3 separate regions of the Homo sapiens genome follow, and all the other regions are linked to region 1. The links come from fine-mapping of genetic effects on gene expression. A gene starts in region 1. Each other region holds a variant in brackets. All regions are shown on one strand. Distances are from middle to middle.

Evidence for each region. PIP is the estimated chance that this variant, and not a neighbour inherited with it, causes the effect. A credible set is the group of variants that fine-mapping cannot tell apart.
Region 2: its variant is the best candidate, but not a certain one, in a credible set for the expression of NFYC in whole blood (TOPMed, PIP 0.81).
Region 3: its variant is the best candidate, but not a certain one, in a credible set for the expression of NFYC in whole blood (INTERVAL, PIP 0.63).

What each region holds. Positions count from the first base shown.
Region 1 is chr1:40,686,884-40,695,068 of GRCh38, reverse strand. It overlaps NFYC (nuclear transcription factor Y subunit gamma), which reads right to left and starts at 3,365. Exons shown (of 10, transcript NM_014223.5): 1 at 3,202-3,365. It overlaps NFYC-AS1 (NFYC antisense RNA 1), which reads left to right and starts at 2,808. Exons shown (of 1, transcript NR_024567.1): 1 at 2,808-5,989. It also overlaps a transcript of RIMS3 not described here. RefSeq lists enhancers at 2,378-2,427, 2,448-2,617 and a silencer at 2,858-2,957.
Region 2 is chr1:40,722,266-40,730,450 of GRCh38, reverse strand. The region is part of intron 1 of NFYC (nuclear transcription factor Y subunit gamma); the gene reads right to left. Among named protein-coding and RNA genes, the nearest start is that of MIR30E, 28 kb to the left of the region's middle. The variant A/C (reference allele first, on the strand shown) is at 3,239.
Region 3 is chr1:40,480,414-40,488,598 of GRCh38, reverse strand. ZFP69 (ZFP69 zinc finger protein) reads right to left here. Exons shown (of 6, transcript NM_001320179.2): 3 at 6,745-6,836. Among named protein-coding and RNA genes, the nearest start is that of ZFP69, 7.2 kb to the right of the region's middle. The variant C/T (reference allele first, on the strand shown) is at 3,876.

The DNA of each region.
Region 1 (8,185 bases):
ATGTGTGCGAGGCTGGTCTCAAACTCCTGACTTCAAATACCACCTGCCTCAGCCTCCCAAAACGCTGGGATTAGAGGCGTGAGCCACTGCGCCCAGTCTCTAGTAGTTCTGACCAAAGAAAAAAATGTGTAAGTATAAATGAGATAACAGATTTGTCATAAGAATTAAATAAGATGCCATGAACACAGCCTATAAAGTATAAATCTTAGTATGATTTCTGCCTGAAGAAAAAGCTGAGGTTCACAAGTTTTCAACATAAACTCAGATCTACTGAGATTTCCTGAGAGTTCAAGATTTCTAGAGTGGTCAATTCCAGATCTTAACAAGGTGGCCATGGGTATAAGGGGCTAACATGGAATGAAGGTGGTCACCAATGTTGAAGGGCAGGTTGCTCCAGAAATGCCTGCTGAAAAAAAAAAGGTGTACATATACACTCATTTTTATCACCTTGTCTAGTCTTACTAAAAACGAAACTAAGTTATAGATCTACAGCATTCTTCATATTTGGTTAACTTGATGACTGAGCCAAATGAGGCTGAAATGACCAATGTACAAAATACATGGCAAACCCTATTTTCACTTGTAGCTTTGCCTCTATCTTCCACAGTGAAACGTTATTGTAAACAAAAATGAGGGAGGGCTTCACCTAAGCACATCAAGACATAAAGCAATTAAGATTTCCAACTCACTGGTCTCCTCTCAAACCCTGATTTAAAGGTTTCCATGCAAAATTGGAACTGCAAATATTTTGTCCTATCCAGTCTTAATTTTACACATTGTTCAGGATAAGCATATCCTAGAATCAATATCCCACAGTCTGAAGAAAGCACTAGGCCTTTGAATAGGTCCTGGTATTTGGGGACACCCTAAGGAACTGGTGATGCTTGAAAAACCTCTCCAGTGAGCTCTTTACACTAGGCACTTGGTAGTTCCTCGCCATTTGGCATAAATTACCTCCACATACAGAAAGACTATCTGCAATATTCTGAAGCTTGGTTTTAAGGAATGCAGATTCTTCAAGTTTCTGTACATATTTTTCCCCATTATCTACCTGGATTCAGGAAAAAATGCAGCAATTTACTTGGTAAATCTTCCCTTTCACAATAGAAGCCAAGGGATATGATTTGAATACCTAGCTGAAGAACCCATATTCTCTATGGTTACAATTCTGTGGTCTGAATCCTTAAGCAGCACAAGAAATTCTTAAGAATTATAGTCTTCCATTTTATACACTCTAAACACCCAGAAATCAAAGTAGATGATCCACTTGGAAATACAAAATTATCTGGAAGTTTCATTAGTCAGGTTTATGTTGATAGCTGATGTAGCAGATAAAATTACAGGCTTTGGCATCAGGCAACCAGGGTTTGAATTCTAGCTCAACCACTTACTGAGTGACACCAGACAAGCTACTTAAACTCTCTGATCCTCAGTTTCCTCATCTGCAATATGGGGACGATAATGCCTACCTATTGGAGTTAAAATATGCCCCAAAATAGCAATTCTCTTCCTCTGCTACTTATCAATTCCCTTCTCCAGAAAATGTAGTTGCATTCACATAAAACTAAATTTGAAAACCCTAGGAGTTTCTTGAAATTGGTATGAAAACAGAAGAGTACCATCTAAAGCTAAAAAGGACTACCTAACAAAAACAAGGAAAAACAAATTAGGAAAACACAGATGTTTAACATAAATGTGTTTCCATGGCCCTCACACACTGGGACGAGCAAATGTAAAGCAATACAAGTAACTACGATTCAGATTCAGTGGAAAAGAACATATTCCCAACAAGTTGACTGGAACGACTCTGGATTGGAATAAAAACTTTTTGAATATGAACCAGAAAGTGTTGACAAGTCCTGTTCCTTAAGAAGCTATGCATGGGCTTTTTTTTGGTTTGGAGCTGCTTATTTGAAAAAACAAACAAAAAATTCAAAGTACACATGGGAATGGGTATACTTTTTAGGCACATATACAAGGAAATAAACCAAGACCGAAAATTTCTGGCTAGCTCCCTTTCCCTTAAAGGGGAACCTAACAATATTTACTCAACAAATAACTACCAACTACCTAATATTTGCTAATGTGGCTTTGGAAACTCAGCCATGACCTGTATCCTTCCTAGAGCAGCAAATTTCATATACAACATCTCAAAACTACTTGTATGGTCCTGAGACTCAATAATGTATAACTGTTCTATTAATACACTTCCCAAGTCCGAAAATGTCCCCTAAAATGCTTCCTATATCAGATTTTGTCACTTTAAATCTGATACTACTTAATGCTGTGCTTCCTAGGCTCGGACAGAGCACACTTCTCAATAGCATTCCTCTCTCGGTTTACTTGCTCCTCACATCACATCCCAGGTCCGTTGACTCTGGACTCCAGGGCTCCACCAAAACCTCAGTGTTTGAATGCTTGCACTCTCCAGCAAAATCCCTGATCCGATTCTACCGTTCAGCTATGCCCCTAGCCCTGATGCCTTTCTTCCTACACCATACACTCACACCGTGGACTTCAGGGCCACTTCCAAACTGGGTCACATTAGCAACCCTGGATCTCGAAGACTCTCAGCCTGTCACTTGGGTTTCGGTGTTTCCAAGCCTGGAACCCTGAGGGCCTGCACACCCCAATCTTGGGCCATGCATGTACCAGGAAAAGCACCTCTGAAAGTGAGTGTCCCCCATTCCCAGGCCATGGCCTAAGCTACCCCCAAAGTACCTGCCAGGCCATCACCCTCTCTTCCCCCTTAAAGCCTCTAGGCTCGCCCTCTCGCCGCAACCCCACGCCTGCGCCGCAGGGGGTCATTGCCCCAGCCGCCCTAGCCCAAGACGCGCGCATCCCCGCAGCCTCAGATTCCTTCATCACCCCCTAGACCGGAGCTGGCGCGTCCAATAAGGTGCCAGGTCCGCGGCCTCCCCGCCACCGACCAATCACGAGCGAGCCCCCCCGCCGTCGCCTTCCGCCAATGGGAGAAAGCCCGCGGGCCGGGCCGACGAGGCACACGGACCCCACGAGCGCGGCGGCGGCGACAGCAGCGGGCCAGGCAAGAGCACAACATGGCGGCGGGCAGGACGGACCGAGCTACAGCAGCGGCCGCGCGAGGAAGTGAGGTCTCTGGCGAAGGCGGGAAGCGCTGCCCCTCCCCCCGCCGCCGCTTCCCTATCACCCTCGCACAGAAACTCCCGCACACTCACACACCTCTGCTCAGGAGTCCAGGAAGAGCAGGAGCCGCCCCCGCGCTCCTACGGAGTCGGGCAATGCAGAGGCCCAGGCGCGGCGGAGGGGAGGGGGAAGTGTGCGTCACGGAGAACGGAGCGCGCGCGAAGCGGGGGCACAAGCAAGATGGCGGCCACGCCGTTTGCACCGTTTCCCCTTTTCCCTTCCCCCTCCCTTGGCGCCTGGACTCCCAGTATCGTGCGGTGCGCAGAAGCTGTGCTCCTTGAGGTCTCGCGAGAATTGGGAAGGGGCGACGACAGAGGGAGGCGGAATGAGATCTGAGAGTTTTAACCCCGCCCCCTTTCGGGAGCTCGAGATCTGAGTTTTGACCCCGCCCCCTTTCGGGGGATCCGGAGGCGCTGCCCAGTGACCTCCACCACCCTGCCTATCCTTGTGGATCTCCTTGGTGCGAGCTTGAATTTTAGGAAATAAGTAGGTGTGTGCGCGTGCCCTTGAGTTTTAGGAACTAAGTAGGGGCGTGTGTGTGTATTTGTGTTTTTAATTTGGGGAGAAAGAACTGGGGGATGAAGGTCGACATGGCGTTCCAGATTAAGCATGCCGTTCAAGTAGACAGCTACTGGCACCTTAAATTCATAAAAGAGCATTTAGCACCAAACTGTAAAGTGATGTCCTCTAGAATAAAGAACAGTACTTACCAAGAATAGTTAGCTTGTAACCTTACGTCGACATAGTTGTTCTTATTTGAATGCAGATTTTAAAGTTTTATCACGCAGTTGGAAACCACAGCTACTATGAGCATGGATTTTTTCATACTTATCTCTTTCATTTCCGTGACCACTTGGTCCAAAGGCATCAGGATTGTATCCATTTTACAAATGATAAAACTGAAGCTCAAAAAGGTTAAGTAACTTGATCTAAGTCCCCACAGCTAGTAAGTGTCAAAACCCCATCCGAATAACTTCAAAACCTGTAGGTATAGTCATCAAATGTGTCTTGAATGGAATTACCTACAGTGAGAGTTAGTGCATTAGGTAACAAGCGCAGAGAGGAATGACTGCCTCTGCTGATGGTAACCTTGAATTTTACAAATGACACTGGAGCCTTTCTGAGACTAGTGTTGCATGGGTCCTCAATAAAATCACACTGTTGTTACTCACTTCCTTTGGGTTTATAACCCTGGTGATAAAGTAATTGAGAATAGTGGAGTAAACCCTCGACTTGAATTCAGGAAAATTGTTTTCAAATCCAGTTTCAATAAATCTCACATCAGGCACTCTATTTGATGAATGAATGAACAAAACCTAACTATAAGACACTTGACTTCAGGGAGTCTCAATTCCTTCATCTGTAAAAAGATCTAATTCCTAACTTTTGGTAATGTTGGGGAGAGTGAATGAAATAATGTGAGAGTGCTTCGTAAATTGCAAAAGTGTTATAAAGAAGTTACTGGTAAGAGCTACGAGTGTCTCGCTGCACTCTAGCATGGGCGACAGTGCGAGGCCCTGTCTCAGAAAAAAAAAAAGTTACTTATAATGACATTTTCAGACATGAGAAATGGCATAAAATTAAAAACAGATTCAAGAGAATAGTATGTTGAGATTGTAGAGACAGATGTAGCTAATGGAAAAAAGCTAAATAAGTCTCTCTACAGATGTTTATTGAGTACTTATTGCATATACTATGCTTGCCAAAAAATGTAAAAGTGTACATTTAGTTACAATGAAGCAGCACAAGTTATTATTAGTGATTATTGTTATAATTAAGTATTGATCACACTTAGGGGCTGCAGTCTATTTCCTTCCAAGAGCCTGGAAGTTGGGTTGCCCTCAGAAATAAATAAAAATCTACATAGAGGAAATTAGCTAAGAGTGATATTAAGTATATTTAACAACAAGTAGTGCTCAAGCATAGATGAAGCAGAATTAGAAATGCAGCTAGGATCCTGGAGGTATACGTCTGTGCTAGGTGTTAACCCTTCAGTTGCTGGTTTGTGAATAGGAGGTCCCAAGGGATCCCAGGGGAAGGGAGTGGTCAGGAGGTTTGGGACAGCAGCTATTTACCAGGTAGTACTAGAGTATTTCAGTATTTTAATAGTCAATGTTATAACTGATAACAGTCAATTGATACATATAAGCCTAATATTAGTCCTTGCTATAGTCTTTATTATCAATAGCCTCCGCCCTTCCCTTTCTAAAGCCGTTGCTATCTGGCCTGTCCCTAGGAGATTAGGGTGAAAGACTTCTCACCCTAATGTCGTCAAGCTTGGCCTTGTTTTGACCAATGAAATATGAGTAGAAATGGCATGAACCGGCCGGGCACGGTGGCTCACACCTGTAATCCCAGCACTTTGGGAGGCCGAGGTGGGTGGATGACGAGGTCAGGAGTTCAAGACCAGCCTGGCCAAGATGGTGAAGCCCTGTCTCTACTAAAAATAAAAAAATTAGCCAGGTGTGGTGGCAGGCACCTGCAATCCCAGCTACTCGGGAGGCTGAGGCAGGAGAATTGCTTTAACCAGGGAGTTGGAGGTTGCAGTGAGCAAATATCACGCCACTGCACTCCAGCCTGGGCGACAGAGTGAGACTCTGTCTCAAAAAAAGAAAGAAAGAAATGGCATGAACCACTTCTGAGCAGAAATTTATGAGCTATCTTACAATTTTGCCATATTATCTTTCCTCTGACACAAGAGCAGCATGTCCTAAATAGAGCTCCCTCTTCAGCTTTGGTCCCAGAATGAAGATGTGCAGAGCGACAGCTGACACACATAACCTGTAATGTTGTGTGAACAATAAATAAACCTTTGTTGTAAGCCACTGAGATTGTTTTCGTTGTTACTGCAGCATAACATGCTAGCTAAGCAGACTAATACAACCATGAAATTAGCTATCCATGGGGGTAAGCCAAGACCTTTTTTACAAACATGACCAAACAAAACAAAACAAACTCTGATAAAGGGCATATGGGAGGAACCTGAAGAAGGTAGATATTGTAATTTAATAAATGGAACCTAATCAATCTCGTCAGCCATTCTGTACCCTGTTTGGAGAGAGATTCTGTGAACAAAAGGGCTTGCTCAGCCATGGCAGCCCAAAACAAGGCAGTCACAAAGGCTAGCACTACCATTGCCCCTCTAAGCCTCATCTCAATTAAGCCACACTGAGCATTAGGATTTCCTTGCCCGTGTCATCTCTGTAGTGGATGGGAATATCTCAGACTGCCTCAGCTAAGAAATACTTCTTAAGATCAACATGCTTTCCTCTATGTTCACCCAGCAAGTGTCTTGGCGATAGGGACAGAATTAAGTGATCTGCCACCTAGAGTATTCTAGTTCTTTTGATCATTGTATTTTTCATTGTAACTAATCAGTTAGATTCCTCTTTATATAAAAGTTTCTGTGAGCTTGGCAAATACAAGACACCCCCTACCCCCAGGAAATGGTTCAACTTTCTGCTTACTATTAAAATTAGGTTTCTGAGTTTGCAAGGTTAAACATCAGTTCTTGTATCATGGTAAATTCCTTAAGGTTATAGCACTGTATAACAGAACCTGTCTAGACAGCCAGCTGGACTTCCTTAAGCCACACCTCTCTATCTCATTGTGTACCTTTGGCCTAAAAGAAAAGCAGCGCTGGCCAGGCGTGGTGGCTCACACCTGTAATTCCAGCACTTTGGGAGGCTGAGGCGGGCAGATCACGAGGTCAGGAGTTCGAGACCAGCCTGATCAACATGGTAAAACCCCGTCTCTACTGAAAATACAAAAATTAGCCGGGCATGGTGGCACACGCCTGTAATCCCAGCTACTCAGGAGGCTGAGGCAGGAGAATCACTTGAACCTGGGAGGCAGAGGTTGCAATGAGCCGAGATCGCACCATTGCACTCTAGCCTAGGTGACAGAGCGAGACTCTGTCTCAAAAAATAGAAAAGCGGCACTAAAAGATATAGTTCATGTGCTGCTGGAGTTCAAAAAGGGAAAGCTTACTTCCACTTAGTATGAAATAGTGGGAGGAGTTCAGGAAAGATTTGCAAGGATGTGACATTTGAACTGGGTCTTGAAAAATGAGTAAAATTAGGGAAGACATGTAGGCAGCCACTAAAGCAAATAGAAGAAGCGAGGGATCAGTTGAGGAAACACAGAGTAAGAGGGAATGGAAGAAGAATCATGGAAAGATACATTATTATGGTTAAATTAAGGCTCTTGGGCTTTATTTTCTGATACGGGAAGTGAGTGGTAGAAGTTTTTTGTTTTGCTTTTAAACAGGTTTAACCATTTTTTTTTTTTTTTTTTTTTAGGAGATGGAGTTTTGCTCTTGTTGCCGGGGCTGCAGTGCAATGGTGCAATCTCGGTTCACTGCGACCTCCGCCTCTCGGGTTCAAGCGATTCTCCTTTCTCAGCCTACCGAGTAGCTGGGATTACAGGCGCGTGCCACCAGGCCCGGCTAATTTTTGTGTTTTTAGTAGAGACGGGGTTTCATTATGTTGATCAGGCTGGTCTGGAACTCCTGACCTCAGGTGATCCACCTGCCTTGGCCTCCCAAAGTGCTGGGATTACAGACGTGAGCCACCGCCCCTGGCCTAAATTTAACCATCTTTAAGTATACATTTCAGTGACATTAAGCCTGTTCACGTTGTGCATCCATCAGCAGAATTTGTCATTATCCCATACTGAAATTCTGTATACGTTAAACGCTTACGCCCTATTCTCTTTTCCCCAGCCTCTGGTAACCACCATTCTACTTTCACCTTTTGGCCACTGTGAATGATGCTTCTGTGGACATTAGTATACAAATATCTGTTGGAGTCCCTGCTTTCAATTATTGGGGGTATATACCCAGAAGTGAAATTGCTGGATTATATGGCAATTCTTATGTTTAATTTTTTTTTTTTTTTGAGGAGCCACCATACTGTTTTCCATAGCATCATACCATTTTACATTCCCAATGGTAGAAGGTTTTACAGAAGATAGTGACATGATCAAAACTATGATTAAAAGCAATCTGGAAAAGAGAGTA
Region 2 (8,185 bases), 35 kb before region 1:
CTATTACCTGAGACACAGCAATACTGAAATTACGCCACTTAATAACCCTACAACGGCCTCTAAGCGTTCAAGTAAAAGAACAGTCTCACATCTTTCACTTAAAAGCTAAAGGCCAGGTGTGGTGGCTCACGCCTGTAATCCCAGAACTTTGAGGCACCAAGGAGGGCTGACTGCATGAATCCAGGAGTTCGAGACCAGCTTGGCAACACAGAGAGACACCCCCTATCTCTACCAAAAAAAAAAAAAAAAAAAAAAGAAAAGAAAGAAAAATTAGCCAGTCCTGCTGATGGCATGCACCTGTGGTCCTAGCTACTCAGAAGGCTGAGGTGGGAGGATCACTTGGGCAGCAGTGAGCTATGATCATGCCACCACACTCCAGCCTGGGTGACAGAACAAAACTCTGTCTCTAACTCAATCAATCGAAAGCTAGAAATGATTAAGCTTAGTGAGGAAAGCACATCAAAAGCTGATATGGGGCTGGGCGCGGTGGCTCATGCCTGTAATCCCAGCACTTTGGGAGGCCGAGGCGGGTGGATCACCTGAGGTCAGGAGTTCAAGACCACCCTGACCAACATGATGAAACCCCTTCTCTACCAAAAATACAAAAATTAGCCAGGCATGGTAGTGGGCGCCTGTAATCCCAGCTACTTGGGAAGCTGAGGCAGAAGAATCTCTTGAACCCAGGAGGCGAAGGTTGCAGTCAGCTGAGATCGTACCATTGCACTCCAGCCTGGGCGACAGTGCAAGACTCCGGTTCAAAAAAAAAAAAAAGAGCTGAGATGGACCAAGAGCTAGGCCTCTTGCACCAAACACTTACCCAAGCTGTGACTGCAAAGAAAAAGTTCTTGAAGGAAATTAAAAGTGCTCCTCCAGTGAACACACAAATAAGAAAGCAAACAGCTTTATTGCTGATATGAAGAAAGTTTCAGTGGTCTAGACAGAAGATCAAACCAACCACAACATTCCTTTAAGCCAAAGCCTAATGTGGAGCAATGCCCTAACTCTCAATTCTATGAAGGCTGAGAGAGGTGAGGGGGCTGCAGAAGAAAAGTTGGTTCATGAGGTTTAAGCAAAGAAGCCATCTCCATAACATAAAAGTATAAGGTGAAGTAGCAAGTGCTAATGTAGAAGCTGCAGCAAGTTTTATCCCGAAGATCTAGCTAGAGTAATTGATGCAACTGGCTACATTAAACAACAGAATTTCAGTGCAGACAAAATGGACTTTTACTGGAAGAAGATGCCATCAAGGACTTTCATAGCTACAAAGAAGTCAATGCCTGTGGAAGCCGATGCTCATTTACCATTCCAAAAATTCTAGGGCCCTTAAGAATTATACAAAATCTACTCTGCCTGTGCTCTATAAATGGAGCAAAGCTTGGATGACAGCACATCTGTTTACAGCGTGGTTGACTATTTAAGCTCACTGTTGAGACCTACTGCTCAGAAAAAAAAGATTCCTTTGAAAATATTACTGCTCACTAACAATATACCTGGTCATCCAAAAACTGATGGAGGCTGGGAGCAGTGGCTCACGCCTGTAATCCCAACACTTTGGGAGGCCAAGGCGGGCGGATAACCTGAGGTCAGGAGTTCGAGACCAGCCTGGCCAACATAGTGAAACCCAGTCTCCATTAAAAATACAAAAATTAGCTCGGCGTGGTGGCGGGCACCTGTAATCCCAGCTACTCAAGAGGCTGAGGCAGGAGAATCGCTTAAACCCAGGAGGCAGAGGTTGCAGTGAGCCAAGATTGCACCACTGCACTCCAGCCTGGGTAGCACAGCGAGACTCCGTCTCAAAAAACAAAACAAAAAACATTAATCTGCTTGCACAACTCCATCAGAGTTTTGTTTTGTTTTGTGACAGTCTCACTCTGTCGCCCAGGCTGGAGTGCAGTGGTGCCATCTCAGGTCACTGCAACCTCCGCCTTCTGGGTTCAAGCGATTCTCATGCCCAGCCTCCCGAGTAGCTGGGATGGCAGGCATGCGCCACCACGCCCAGCTAATTTTTGTAATTTTAGTAAAGACAGGGTTTCGCCACGTTGGCCAGACTGGTCTCAAACTCTTGATTTCAAGTAATCCGCCCGCCTCAGCCTCCCAAAGTGTTGGGATTACAGGTGTAAACCATCGCGCCCAGCCGAGATTAGTATTTTAACACCTGCTAACACAATATCCATTCTGCAGCCCATGGACCAAAGAGTAATTTCAACATTCAAGTCTTATTATTGAAGAAAATACATGGCCGGGCACAGTGGCTCATGCCTATAATCCCAGCACTTTGGGAGGCCAAGGCAGAAGGATCACCTGAGGTCAGGAGTTCGAGACCATCCTGGCCAACATAATGAAACCCCATCTCTACTAAAAACACAAAAATTAGCAGGGCTTGTTGGTGCACGCCTGTAGTCCCAGCTACTCTAGAGGCCAAAGCATGAGGCTGCAGTGATCCGAGATCACACCACTGCACTCCAGCCTAGGTGACAGAGTGAGACTCTGTCTCAGAAATAAAAACACTTCATAAGGACACAGCTGCCATAGACAGGGATTCCTCAGACAGATCTGAGTAAACTGAAAACCTTCTAGACAGGATTCACCATTTTAAATACCATTAAGAATATTCATGGCAGGCTGGGCGCGGTGACTCATGCCTGTAATCCTAGCACTTTGGGAGGCCGAGGCGGGCGAATCACAAGGTCATGAGTTTGAGACCAGCCGGGCCAACATGGTGAAACCCTGTCTCTACTAAAAAAATACAAAAATTAGCCGGGCATGGTGGTGTGGGCCTGAAATCCCAGCTACTTGGAAAGCTGAGGCAGGAGAATCACTTGAATCTGGGAGGCGGAGGTTGCAGTGAGCCGAAATCGTGCCACTGCACTCCAGCCTGGGCGACAGAGCAAGACTTTGTCTCAAAAAAAAAAAAAAAAGAATATTCATGGCCAGGCACAGTGCCTCAGGCCTGTAATTCCAGCAGTTTGGGAGGCCAAGGCGGGAGGACTGCTTTAGCTCAGGACTTCAAAACCAGCCTGGGCAACATGGCAAAACCTGTCTCTACAAAAAATACAAAAATTAGCTGGTTGTGGTGGCACATGCTTATTGTCCCAACTACTTAGGAGGCTGAGGTGGGAGGATCACTTGAGCCTGGGAGATCAGGGCTGCAGTGAGCCAAGATCTTGCTACTGCACTCCAGTCTGGGCAACAGAGTAAGACCCTGTCTCAAAAACCAACCAACCAACCAACCAACCAA[A/C]CAAACAAACAAAAAAAGCCATTCAAAATTCATGGGAGGAAGTCAAAATATAAACATTAACAGGAGTCTGAAGTTGATTCCAATCCTCCTGGATGATTTTGAGGGGTTTGAGACTTCAGTGGAAGAAGTAACTGTAGATGTGGTAGAAATAGCAAGAGAACTGTAATTAGAAGCGGAGCCTGAGATGTGACTGGATTGCTGCAATCTCATGATAAAACTTTAACAGATGAGGAGTTGCTTCTTATGGAAGGCAAAGAAAGTCGTTCCTTGAAATGGAACCTACTCCCAGTGAAAATGCTATGAACATTAGAATATTATATAAACTTAGTTCATAAAATAGTGGCAGGATTTGAGAGGACAAACTCCAGTTTTGAAAGAAGCTCTACTCTGGGTAAAATGCTATCAAACAGAAAAGCAGCTACAGAGAAATCTTTCATGAAAGGAAGAGTCAACTGAAGCAACAAACTTCACTGCTGCCTTATTTTAAGAAATTGCCAGCCAGGCACAGTGGCTCACGCCAGTAATCCCAGCACTTTGGGAGGCTAGGGCAAGAGGATCACTTCAGCCCAGGAGTTTGAGACATCAAGATCAGTCTGGGCAACACAGGAGACCCTGTCTATACAAAAAATACAAAAATCAGCTGGGTGTGGTGGCACGTGTCTGTAGTCCCAGCTACTTGGGAGGCTGAAGTAGGAGGATGGCTTGAACCTGGAAGGCAGAGGTTGCAATCAGCCAAGATCATGACACTGTACTCCAGCCTGGGTGACAGTGTGGAGAGAGGAAAAAAAAAAAACAGGCCAGATGCGGTGGCTCACGCCTGTAATCCCAGCACTTTGGGAGACTGAGGTGGGTGGATCACCTGAGGTCAGGAGTTCGAAACCAGCCTGGCCAACATGGTGAAACCCCGTCTCTACTAAAAATACAAAAATTAGCTGGGCATGGTGGTGCGGGCCTGCAATCCCAGCTACTTGGGAAGCTGGGGCAGCAGAATCGCTTGAGCCCAGGAGGCAGAGGTTGCAGTGAGCTGAGATGGCGCCACTGCACTCCAGCCTGAGCAACAGGAGCGAAACTCCATCTCAAAAAAAAACACACACACACACACACAAACACATACACAGAAATTGCCAAAGCCACCCCAAACTTCAGCAACTACCACCCGAATCAGTCAGCAGCCATCATCATCAAGTCAAGACCCTCAAGCAGCAAAAGGTTATGACTTGCTGCAAGTTCAGATGATAATTTGCATTTTTACCAATAAGGTATTTTAAAATTAAAATAAGCACATTTTTTAGACATTATGCTGTTGCACACTTAATAGGCTACACTATAATATAAACATAACTTCTATTTGCACTGGGAAACCAACAAATTTGTGTGACTCTCTTTATTATAATGTTAGCTTTATTGTATTTTGCCCTAGTGGCAGCACTATCACAAGCATTTTATGTACCAGTACTGCTCAGGTATTTACTGAGGTTAGTTCTAGGTTTCTTCATTTAAATGAGCTAAGGTTTGTAAGATGTTATATTTTAAATGATGATGGGAGATACAGAGAAAGGAAGAATATTAATAAAAATAAATGGATGGATGAGGGAAAGGGGGGTAGGATTTATTTACTAACAGACTATTTGGTTTTTATGTTTACACAGATGGACCTTAGGACTTATGCTATTATCGATCACAACAGCTAAAAAGCATTTCTTAAGAAGGCTTATACTCTCCAAAATAAAACCAATCTAAAATTGACAATTTCACAAGAAGAAAAACAGCACTGGTCTGGAAATTAAAAGACCTACGTCTGTGTACTGGACGCTTGCTGCCTACTAGCTGGTGGCCCTGGGCCAGTCACTCTACTAAGCCACTCCAGCAATGATGTATACTGAACACATTCCAAAGGGGTCTCTGGTGGTTTGGTGGGGAAGTCCTACACTTCACTACTTGAAGATGCAATAAATGAATGAATACAAGGGAAGGCAAAGTGACTAGAGAGAAGAGAAGGTTCAATAGTCTCTATTTAAACTCATCTAAGGTTTTTATATAGTCATGCAGGAAACTAAGTTCAGGCACTACGTTTAGTGCCTGAAACCTTATTACTTACATTCTAAACCCTTACATAGCTGGGTACCAGCTGGTCATATTTACTGGCAGGCTACTGAATAGTCTTCACTACTATAATACAAGAATGAATAACATAGCTCTACTTCCCCAACTCTGATTAATGCCAAGTTTGACGTTTGAAGGTATATCTGTGTTAAGAGGAAGCCGCTTTTCAAAGTGCCTACTGGAAAACCATGCTTCCTAAAAGACTTAGGCTTAGAAGTGGCTGCACACTGCTCTCCTTAAAGATCTGTACACAAGGACACATTTTCAAACTGGCAGAAGAGCCACTTTTCCTTCAAAAACAAAAATACTTTTCTATTTGGTATCTAGTACAATATAATCTTTGAAACAGGGGCCAGATCATAATATAGTTGTAGCACAACTAGAGAAAAATGAAGGCACAGCAACTGGTATAAACAATGAAAGTGACGGGAAGGCATGAACAGAACATTTGAAAACTTTTTTCTGTGGAATAGAAAACGATATGTAACATCTTACTTCACACACATTCTTACTCATCCTTTCAATGCTCAAACTTAAACCATCTCTGCATATATAACAGCAATAAAACACTATCAGTATTTTGTATGATGAAGAAAAAGGATCAAGTATTTAGTGAAGTATTCTAAAGCAAGGGTCTAAAAACTACAGCTCATAGGCCACATCTGGCCTACAGCCTGTTTTTAGAAACAGTTTCACTGGAAGACATCAACCCTAATTATTTATTTATTTATTCATTTACTTTTAGACGGAGCCTCAGTCTGTCATCCAGGCTGGAGTACAATGGCACGATCTCGGCTCACTGCAACCTCCACCTCCCGGGTTCAAGCGATTCTCCCACCTCAGCCTCCCAAGCAGCTGGGATTATAGGCACCCGCCATCACACCCAGCTAATTTTTGTATTTTTGAAGAGACGGGTTTCACCATGTTGACCAGGTTGGTCTTGAACTCCTGACCTTAAGTGATCTGCCCACCTCGGCCTCCCAAAACGCTGGGATTACAGGCGTGAGCCACCATGTCCAGCCCCTAATTAGTTTATATTGTCTGTTCATGCTAAACAGTAGAGTTGAAGAGTTACAACAAAAATCATACAGCCACAAAGCCTAAAATATCTGGCCCTTTAAGGAAAAAGGTTCAGCCAGGCATGGTAGCTCATGCCTCTAATCCTAGCACTCTGGGAGGCCAAGGCGGGAGGATCACTTGAACCCAAGAGCTCGAGATCAGCCTGGGCAACATAGTGAGACCCCCATCTCAATAGAAAATAAAAAATAAAAAACTAGCCAGGTGTAGTGGCCCACACCTGTAGTCCCAGCTACTCACGAGGCTGAGGCGGGAGGACTGCTTGAGCCTGGGTGGTCAAGCCTGCAGTGAGCCATGATTGCGCCACTGCACTCCAGCCTGAGCAGGAACAGCAGAGCAAGATCCTGTCTCAAAAAAAAAAGAAAAGAAAAGAAAAAGTTTCAGATAATATTCTGATCTTGTTTTAAAGCACTGTTAGGTGTTTTATTTATCCCTGATTTACTGATGGGGAAACTGACACTAGAAGTTGAGAAGCTGGTCCTAGATCACACAACTGTTACTTAGCTCCCCTGCCTCCCTCACCTGTTCATCCTCAATTAGAAGTAAGCTGGGCCAGACCCCCTCTGCCCCACAGAAGTATCTGTTAGTCTCTCTGACCCTCCAGCCTAACGAGTAAATAAATCCTTGTAGGAAGAATGGTGAGTAACTGGTTTTTCAGGCCTCAATCCCGAAAAGGAATTGTGACATGAGCTAGAGACAGAAAGAGTGCCTGTAGCCTAAGTTAAGTTGTATTCTAAAACAAAGCATCATTTTCTTACCGGGTGCCTTCTGAGATTCACAAACAGCCTCTTGCCCAGTTTCTGGCAGTATCCTGTGTTTGTGTGTCTAGCAGAGGGAAGAAGTGTGATTCTGAAGAATGTTTCATAGATGCCAACTTACGGGCTTCAGAGTTCATAAAATACATGCCACATACATCATCCTCAATTGACCCTTACTTAGCTCAGTGATAAATTTACCAATATTATTCCAATTTTACAGATAAGGTTGAGGGTTGAATATCAAATTACTTGCTCAAGATCACAATACAATAAATGATGAGTCAAAATGCAAAAGCTCTAAAATTCTGTCTTGATTTATTATAACTTGCTCTTTCCCACTTTTTGCACTGTTTAAGCTGTCACTCTTTTTTCTTTTCTGTTTTATCCTTCCCCTTTGCATGTCTCTAGGCAGGTTAGCAGCACCTATGAATACTCAGCTGCGAACAGTTGGGGGCACTAAAGCACGAGGTAAATACATAAATAAATAAAATGTATTGGACCTGGGGGTTCTTAGCTCTCTGGCGAACTGTGATCTTGAGCAAATCTCTTAACTTCTTAGAAACTTCTCTATTCATCTAAAGCAACATCCCACAGAGCAGCTGAAACACACAAATGGTAAAACACATGTTAGAAGGCCTCAAAAAATAGCAAGCTTCATACAAATGCCAGATGGCATCATATCATCATGGCTGCCTGAAGCTAGACAAGACACCAACTACTGGTCTGAAGAGTCCCAGATACAGTACCGAGCCTAAAGACCAACTAGCTTCTTTTTCTCTATAATTTAGACTTACTTTGCTTTTGACATATTTCTTTAAAAAGCCTAGTTTCAGATGCATGGAAATACATATTAAAATAGAGAAAGATGTTCTCCTATCTCTTTTATAAACATGAAATAATTTTTAAGCCCTTTAAACTATTAAATTTGGAACAAATGTACTAGTTCCAAAAAAGCAAAGAATTCAAGCTGAACATGGGAACGTTCCAAATTTAAATCCTTGGGTGTGTC
Region 3 (8,185 bases), 210 kb after region 1:
CTGGAGGTAGGCTGGTTGATGAGAGAGTGGAAAGAAATGAAATCAAGAGAGGTGGAGATGAGGAACAGGGTGGGATAGGGGTTCCCCCACCACCTCACGCACTTATTGTCACAAAGACCTGTGCATTCTTACTGAACTTGAATTCTGAGGCCCTGCTGGAGTTTAATGCAAAAATGAACAAAACTGTCTGGAACTGTAGTCTAATCCCTTCCTAAGCTCAAATGCCAAAAAGATAAAAAGAAAAGCCCTCAGCAATTGTGGCATGGGCTAATCAGAAGTATACTCAATCAAATTAAAGCTGCATGATAGCCAGAGCTCAGCCACAGCTCTAGGAGGAGCCCCTCACCTTAACCACCAGAGAGACGAAAGGGTTTGGAAATAGAACAAATCAAAACACATGAATAAACTATGTGTGTGTGTGTGTGTGTATACATACAAAACACACACATGTATGTATGTATATACACATGCACTCCTGCCTTGGCCCCTCAAAGTGTTCGCATTACAGGCATGAGACACCGTGCCCGGCTTAGAGATCACTTTTTTTTTTTTTTTTTTGAGACAGAGTCTCACCCTGTTGTCCAGGCTGGAGTGCAGTGGTGCGAGCTCAGCTCACTGCCACCTCCCGGGTTCAAGTGATTCTCCTGCCTCAGCCTCCCAGGTAGCTGGTATTACAGGCGCACGCCACCACGCCCAGCTAATTTTTGTATTTTTAGTAGAGACCGGGTTTCACCATGTTGGTCAGACTGGTCTCGAACTCCTGGCCTCAGGTGATTCGCCCACCTCAGCCTCCTGAAGTGCTGGGATTACAGGCGTGAGCCACCGCGCCCGGCCTGAGAGATCACTTTTTACTGTGATATGCAATTTACCGGAGAGATGAAGTGCTAATGCAGAGATGCTTAGCATCACACTGAATTTTAAGTAAATACTTGAAACACCTGAGCGCACTACAATAGCCACAGGAGATAGCTATAAAATTATCATACTAATACACTAGGTGTACTATAGTTTATTTTATGCAGTAGTGATTTAATACTGCATCTTTACATTTGTTTACATTTCTCTCAACTGAGAATGGCACCATGAATAGTCTGTGCACATAAGCTTTGAAAATTTTTAACTTTTTATAATAGATACGTGTATCTCTTATGGTAGTAAATGATAAAATAGACTAGTACCTACATATATTTTATGTATTCATAACATACCTAACTTTTTCTTAATTTTTTTGATACTCCTAGGCTACATGGTCCATCTGCAAGTTTTTTCAAATTGTCACAAATCTCCAAAAAATGTTTCAATATATTTATTGAAAAAAGTCTATATAGAAGTGGACCTGCACAGTTCAAACCTGCGCTGCTCAAGAATCAACTGTAGGCCGGGCGCAGTGGCTCATGCCTGTAATCCCAGCACTTTGGGAGGCTGATGCGGGCGGATCATGAGGTCAAGATATCAAGACCATCCTGGCCAACATGGTGAAACCCTGTCTCTACTAAAAATACAAAAATTAGCTGGGCATGGTGGTGCATGCCTGTAGTCCCAGCTACTCGGAAGGCTGAGGCAGAAGAATCACTTGAACCCGGGAGGCGGAGGTTGCAGTGAGCCGAGATCTCGCCACTGCACTCCAGCCTGGTGACAGAGCAAGACTCCATCTTAAAAAAAAAAAAAAAAAATCAACTGTAAATGAAAATTCTACAAGTGAAAAAGACAATATCTAAAAATTCATTGGATGGGCTTAAAGTAGATTAGACCATGATGAGATAAGATCAGTGAAACTTAAGATGGGTCAATAAATATTATTCAAACTAGAGTACCAAGAGAAAAAAATCTGTGGGATAATATCAAGTGGTCTATTATACATGTAATTAGAATCTCAGGGCTAGGTGGGATGGCTCCTGCCTGTAATCCTAGCACTTTGGAAGGCCAAGGCAGGAGGACTGCTTGAGCTCAAGAGTTTGAGACCAGCCTAGGCAACATAGGAAGACCCTGTCTCTACAAAAAAAAATACAAAAATTAGCCAGGCATGGTGGCGCACACTTGTAGCCCCAGCTGCTCAGGAGGCTGAGGCAGGAGGATCACTTAAGCCTGAGAGGTAGTGGTGGGAGGGAGGGAGGGAGGGAGGAAGAAAGGAGGGAGGGAGGGATGGAGGGAGGGAGGAAGGGAAGGAAGGAAGGAAGGGAGGGAGGGAGGAAAGGAGGGAGGAAGGGAGGAAGGGAAGCAGGGAGGGAGAAAGAGCAATCTCAGAAGAGGGAATAGGTAGAAAAAATATTTGAAAAATAATGGCTGAAGATTTTCCAAACTAATAGGAAAAAAAATCAACCCACAGATCCAAGAAGCTCAGCAAACCCCAAAAAGGATAAACTCAAAAATCACAGCAAGGCACAGTGGCTCATGCCTGTAATCCCAGCACTTTGGGAGGCTATGGTGGCAGATCACTTGAGGTCAGGAGTTTGAGACCAGCCTGGCCAACATGGTGAAACCCCATCTCTACTAAAAATACACAAAATAAAAAATAAAATAAAATAAAATAAGGCGGGTGTGGTAGTTTACATCTGTTATCCTAGCTACTTGAGAGGCTGATGTGAGAGGATTGCTTGAACCCAGGAGGTGGAGGTTGCAGTGGGCCAAGATCATGCCACTGCACTCCTGCCTGGGTGACAGAGCAAGACTCCGTCTCAAAAAACAACAACAACAACAACAAATCACACCTATGCACATCAGATAAAAGTTGATATAAAACAGATACATCACATAAAAAGAATAACACCTGCCTTCTCATCACAGATAATACAATCTAAAAGATAATGGAACATTTTTAAACTACTTAAAGAAAAAGCAGTCAACCTAGAATTCTTTATCCAATAAGATCCTCAAATAGGAAGATAATATAAAGAAATGTTTAGATCAATAAAAGTGAGAATTTGTCACCAGAACACCCACATTATAAGAAATGCTAAACAAAGTTCTTTAAGCTGAAGGGAAATGATGCAAGATAGAAACCTGGAATGAAAGGGAAAAAGGAAGAGTGCCTAAATGGATAAATATGAGGGCAAATAAGAAAGACATGTTTTTTTCCATTTTCATAATTTGTTATAAGACAGTTTACTATTAAAAGCAAAATTAAGAACAATATACTGTGGTGTTTTTACATGTAAAACAAAATGTATATTGACAACACACTAAGAGTGGGAAGGAGTATATGAAAATATAACGTAAGTCTTTCATATGATATGTGAAGCCATAAAACATTAATTCAAAGTAACTGTGGAATGTTACTTTTGTAACATGTGTAATGTTAAATACATTTGTAACATTCCACAGTTACTTTGAATTAATATTATATGGCCTCACATATAATATGATTGTTTTTAGTGGTTGTTAGGGCAACCACTAAAAATAAAGAACTGGCCAGACTCAGTGGTTCACGCCTGTAATCCCAGCACTTTGGGAGGCCAAGGTGGGTGGATCACCTGAGGTCAGGATTTCGAGACCAGCCCGGCCACCATGGCAAAACCCAGTCTCTACTAAAAATACAAAAATTAGCCAGGCATGGTGGTGGGAGCCTGTAATCCCAGCTACTCGAGAGGCTGAGGCAGGAGAATCGCTTGAACCTGGAAGGCAGAGGTTGCAGTGAGCCGAGATCATGCCACTGCACTCCAGCCTGGGCAACAAGAGTGAAACTCCATATCAAAAAAAAAAAAAAAAAAAAAAAAAAGCAGGCCAGGCGCAGTGGCTCATGCCTGTAATCTCAGCCCTTTGGGAGGGAGAGGCGGGCGGATCACGAGGTCAGGAGATCAAGACCATCCTGGCTAACACAGTAAAACCTCGTCTCTGCTAAAAATACAAAAAAAAAATTAGCCGGGTGTGGTGGCACG[C/T]GCCTGTAGTCCCAGCTACTCAGGAGGCTAAGGCAGAATTGCTTGAACCCAGGACGTAGAGGTTGCAATGAGCCAAGATTGCACCACTGCACTCCAGCCTGGGCAACAGAGCAAGACTCTGTCTCAATTAAAAAAAAAAAATCAAAGAACTGTAGCTTAAAAGTCATTAGAGGACATCAAATGGAATACTGGAAAAATGATTCAATGCAAAAGAAGGCAGAAAAAGGCTGGGCACGGTGGCTCACACCTGTAATCCCAGCACTTTCGGAGGCTGAGGTGGGCAGGTAACTTGAGGTTAAGAGCTTGAGACCAGCCTAGCCAACATGGTGAAACCCCATCTCTACTAAAAATACAAAATTAGCCAGGTGTGGTGGCAGGCACCTGTAATCTCAGCTACTCGGGAGGCTGAGGCTGGAGAATCGCTTGAACCCAGGAGGTGGAGGTTGTAGTGAGCTGAGATCGCACCACTGCAGTCCAGCCTGGGTGACAGAGGGAGACTCTGTCTTTAAAAAACAAAACCAAACAAAAAGAAGGCAGGAAAAGAGAAACAAATAAACAAAGGCTAGATAGGACAAATAGCAAACAAAAGTATACACTTAGACCCAACCATACTGATTGTTTTATTTATTTTATTTATTTATTTTTTTTGAGACGGAGTTTTGCTCTTGTTGCCCAGGCTAGAGTGCAATGGCGCAATCTCGGCTCATGCAACCTCCGCCTCCCGGGTTCAAGTGATTCTCCTGCCTCAGCCGCCAGAGTAGCTGGGATTACAGGCACACACCACCACGTCCAGCTAATATTGTATTTGTAGTAGAGACGGGGTTTCTCGATGTTGGACAGGCTGGTCTTGAACTCCTGACCTCAGGTGATCTTTCTGCCTCTGGCTCCCAAAGTGCTGGGACCACAGGCATGAGCCACCATGCCCGGCCACTTAAGCTTTTTACAATCTCAGTGTCCTCAAATAAGAAGGTCAAATGCTAATATCTGCCATCTAGGATTGGAATATATTGCAGCTTTATTTCTAGTAATATGGAAGAAGTAACGATAATAGTCTGAAGAGTTATCGCTACATTCTACTTATCTGGAATTTTTCACTTCCTACATTTATCATAAACTGATGGGTTTAAAGGATTAAATTTTTTTAAACTGAAGTACAATTTACATACAGGAAAATACACTAAGAAAGTGTACAGTTTGGGCTGGGTGCAGTGGCTCGTCTGTAATCCCAGCACTTTGGGAGGCCGAGGCAGAAGGATTGTTTGAGCTGAAGAGTTTGAGACCAGTTGGACAACATAGTAAGACCCTATTTTTTCTGTCATTTTTTTAATTGGCAAAGTATGGTGGCATGTTCCTGTAGTCCTAGCTACTTGGGAGGCTTAGGCAGGAGAACTGCTTGAGCCCAAGAGTTTGAGGTTGCAATGAGTTATGATTGTACCACTGCACTGCAGCCTGAGCTACAAAGTGAGACTCAGTCTCTAAAAAAAAAAAAAAAAAAAATTAAAAAAGGTGTATGGTTTGATTTTGACATATGTAACATAATGTAATCAAGATAGAGAACATTTCCACCATCTCAGAACGTTCCTTCATGCCCCTTTTTAAACGGTATTCCACTCCACCCCCAGTTGATCCACCAGTTTATTCCACCCCACCCGCAGATCTCATTTAAAAATGAGATCTCTATTTTTAAAAAGAATATATGTTCTGTAGTTGTTAGACGTAGTGTTCCGTAAGTGTTAATTAGGTTAAATTGGTTGATAGTGTTGTTCAAATCTTCTGTATCCTTGATGAGTTTTTGTCTACTGGTTACATCAATTACTGAGAAAGAAGTGTTAAAGTTTCTAATTACTGTGATTTTGTCTATATCTCTCTTTAGTTCTGTCAATTTTGCTTTATTTTGAAGTTCTGTCATCACATGTATAAACACTTAGAATTGTTGACCCTCTTATTATTATGAAATGTCCCTTTTTGCCTAGGAATACTCCTTTTCCAGAAGTCCACTTTGCGTGATATAATATATGCCTCCAATGTTCTTTTAATTATTGTTTGTACGGTATAGCTTTTTTCATCTTTTTACTTTAAACTTGAAACTGTCTCAAAAAAAAACAAAAGCTAAAGTAATTGCCCCAGATCACTGAGCAACTAGACAAATGTTATACCATCTAATTTCAGCACTCCAGTTCATTTCACTTCAAACCCTTCTGTCCTCCAATAAGATCTCCTCTTTTAAGTCTTTCTTTCACATTTATTCTACAATTTTCCTTCCATTTCATCTCTGTTTCCGATAGGCAGTACTGACTATCCCATTTGTGACATGCTGTTGTAGCTGCTCTCAGTGGCTACTCTAGCTTTTCTGGCCAGCCCGTCTGATGTGTGCACTGTGTGGCCTATTTCTTTTCTACTCACTTCTCCTTTGGTTCTGGTTTGACCTCTGTTTTCAATATTACACTAAGGGTCACCTCTCAAAGTTCACAGTAATTCATGTACATCACTAAGAAAGAACCTTCTTACACATTTTGATTTTGAGTATTTCATTGAGATTTCTCTTAGATCTCATGTGGTATCGGTTGGTTTTTAGGGGCTAGAATTATATCTCTCATTTCACTTTCTTTATAGAAAGTAGCATCATACTAGATTCAGATGTTGGTGAGAAACAAGAGTGACATGGAGGGAGACCCCTATAAGTAGGGGAATTGCCACCACTGGAGCCCAATTTTCTGTAAAAGGACAACTTGCATTGAGCTCCTTAGGTTGAATTTGTTAGTCTTAATACCCTACCTCACCACCACTCCCACCTCTGCAAAAAAGACAGGTTATATACCCTAAAAACAGGAGAAGCAATGTCAAGAAAATGAGATGAATCCCTACTCACCTGGGATTCTGCTGTCGGGAGTCCAGGGGTCACTTCATCCTCTAAACTTTCTCTCTGGGTCTTTACGTCCTCAGCATCCTGAGACAGCAGAGCTGGGGAAGGAAAAGAGCCATGAGCTTTGCATCTCCCCAAATCTCCCAAATAAAGAAATTGCCTGCAGACCCACTCAATGTGGCTCCTCCCCCAAAAAGGTTCACAAAGAGGGACACTGAGAGTGACTCAAGAGCAGCCTGAAGCCTCCTTAGTGAGGAGGACCTGCTGCAAGTCGCTTTGGGCATTAATGTTTCCCAGTGATCAAAAACTATGTATGAGAGAACAAAGTATTTAAATGGAGAATCCTTTAAATCCCACTCCCCCCTCCAAAAAACTCTACCAATGGTCAATACTGGTCCAAAAGCACAGCTCTAACAGGCCACTCCTTTGTTCAAAAATCCTCAAAGGTTCCCCACTGACAAGAAGGAAAAATCCAAACACTTCACCATGGACTTCAAGGCACTCTACAATCTGCCCAAAGCATATTTTCTCAACAATGGGTACTGCTACTTTATACCTGGGACACACCCACCCACCCACCACATTATTAGTCTTTCAGACTAAAGATTCTCAGTCAGACTAAAGATGCCCCATTTTCTTCAAGGCACCCACTTTTGTATCCTTTCCCCAAATCTACACAAAAAACCTAAGACATTCTTCAAGGCCCAAATCAATGCTACCTGCTCTGTGAAAATTTCTTAAATACATACAACCAGGCCGGGCGCAGTGGCTCATGCCTGTAATCTCAGAACTTTGGGAGGCCGAGGCAGGTGGATCACGAGGTCAGGAGTTCGAGACCAGCCTGGCCATTATGGTGAAACCCCAGCTCTACTAAAAATATAAAAACTGTAACAACGTAAAAGCTAATTAAGGTCACAAACTTCGATGAAACCCTTGAAGTCCAAATCTTCTTGATATTGTGAATTGTACTCCTTCCAGTTTAGTTTCTTCTGGACTTTCCTTAACTGACTACCTTTTAATTTTAATTTAAATTTGCACACATTATGATTAAAATTGGGCCTCTACTGTGATGATTCCTATTTCCTCTCATGTTTGAAAGTACAAACTAACATTCAAATAAACATTAGCATCAAGTAGTGCAGACATTTGTATGCATTTCCTTGATTCAATTTGTTGTGACCTTACCAGTTTTGAAGTGGAATTGCACCATTTTGTAGATAAAGGAAACTAAGTATATTGCTGCACTTTTAAGTTTTCAAAACAGTGTTTGAAAATTGCATGGTTTTTTTTTTTTAACTCAGTTTAAAAAGACTAAAATGTTCTTTCAAAAGAGGCATCTAACTGTGTTCCTAATTCTGTATATGGGCTTAGGTTTTGTAACCAATAAAAAAAAAACTGCTATCAAATATGTAAAAAGCAATGCAAAAATTAGCCAGGCGTGGTGGCA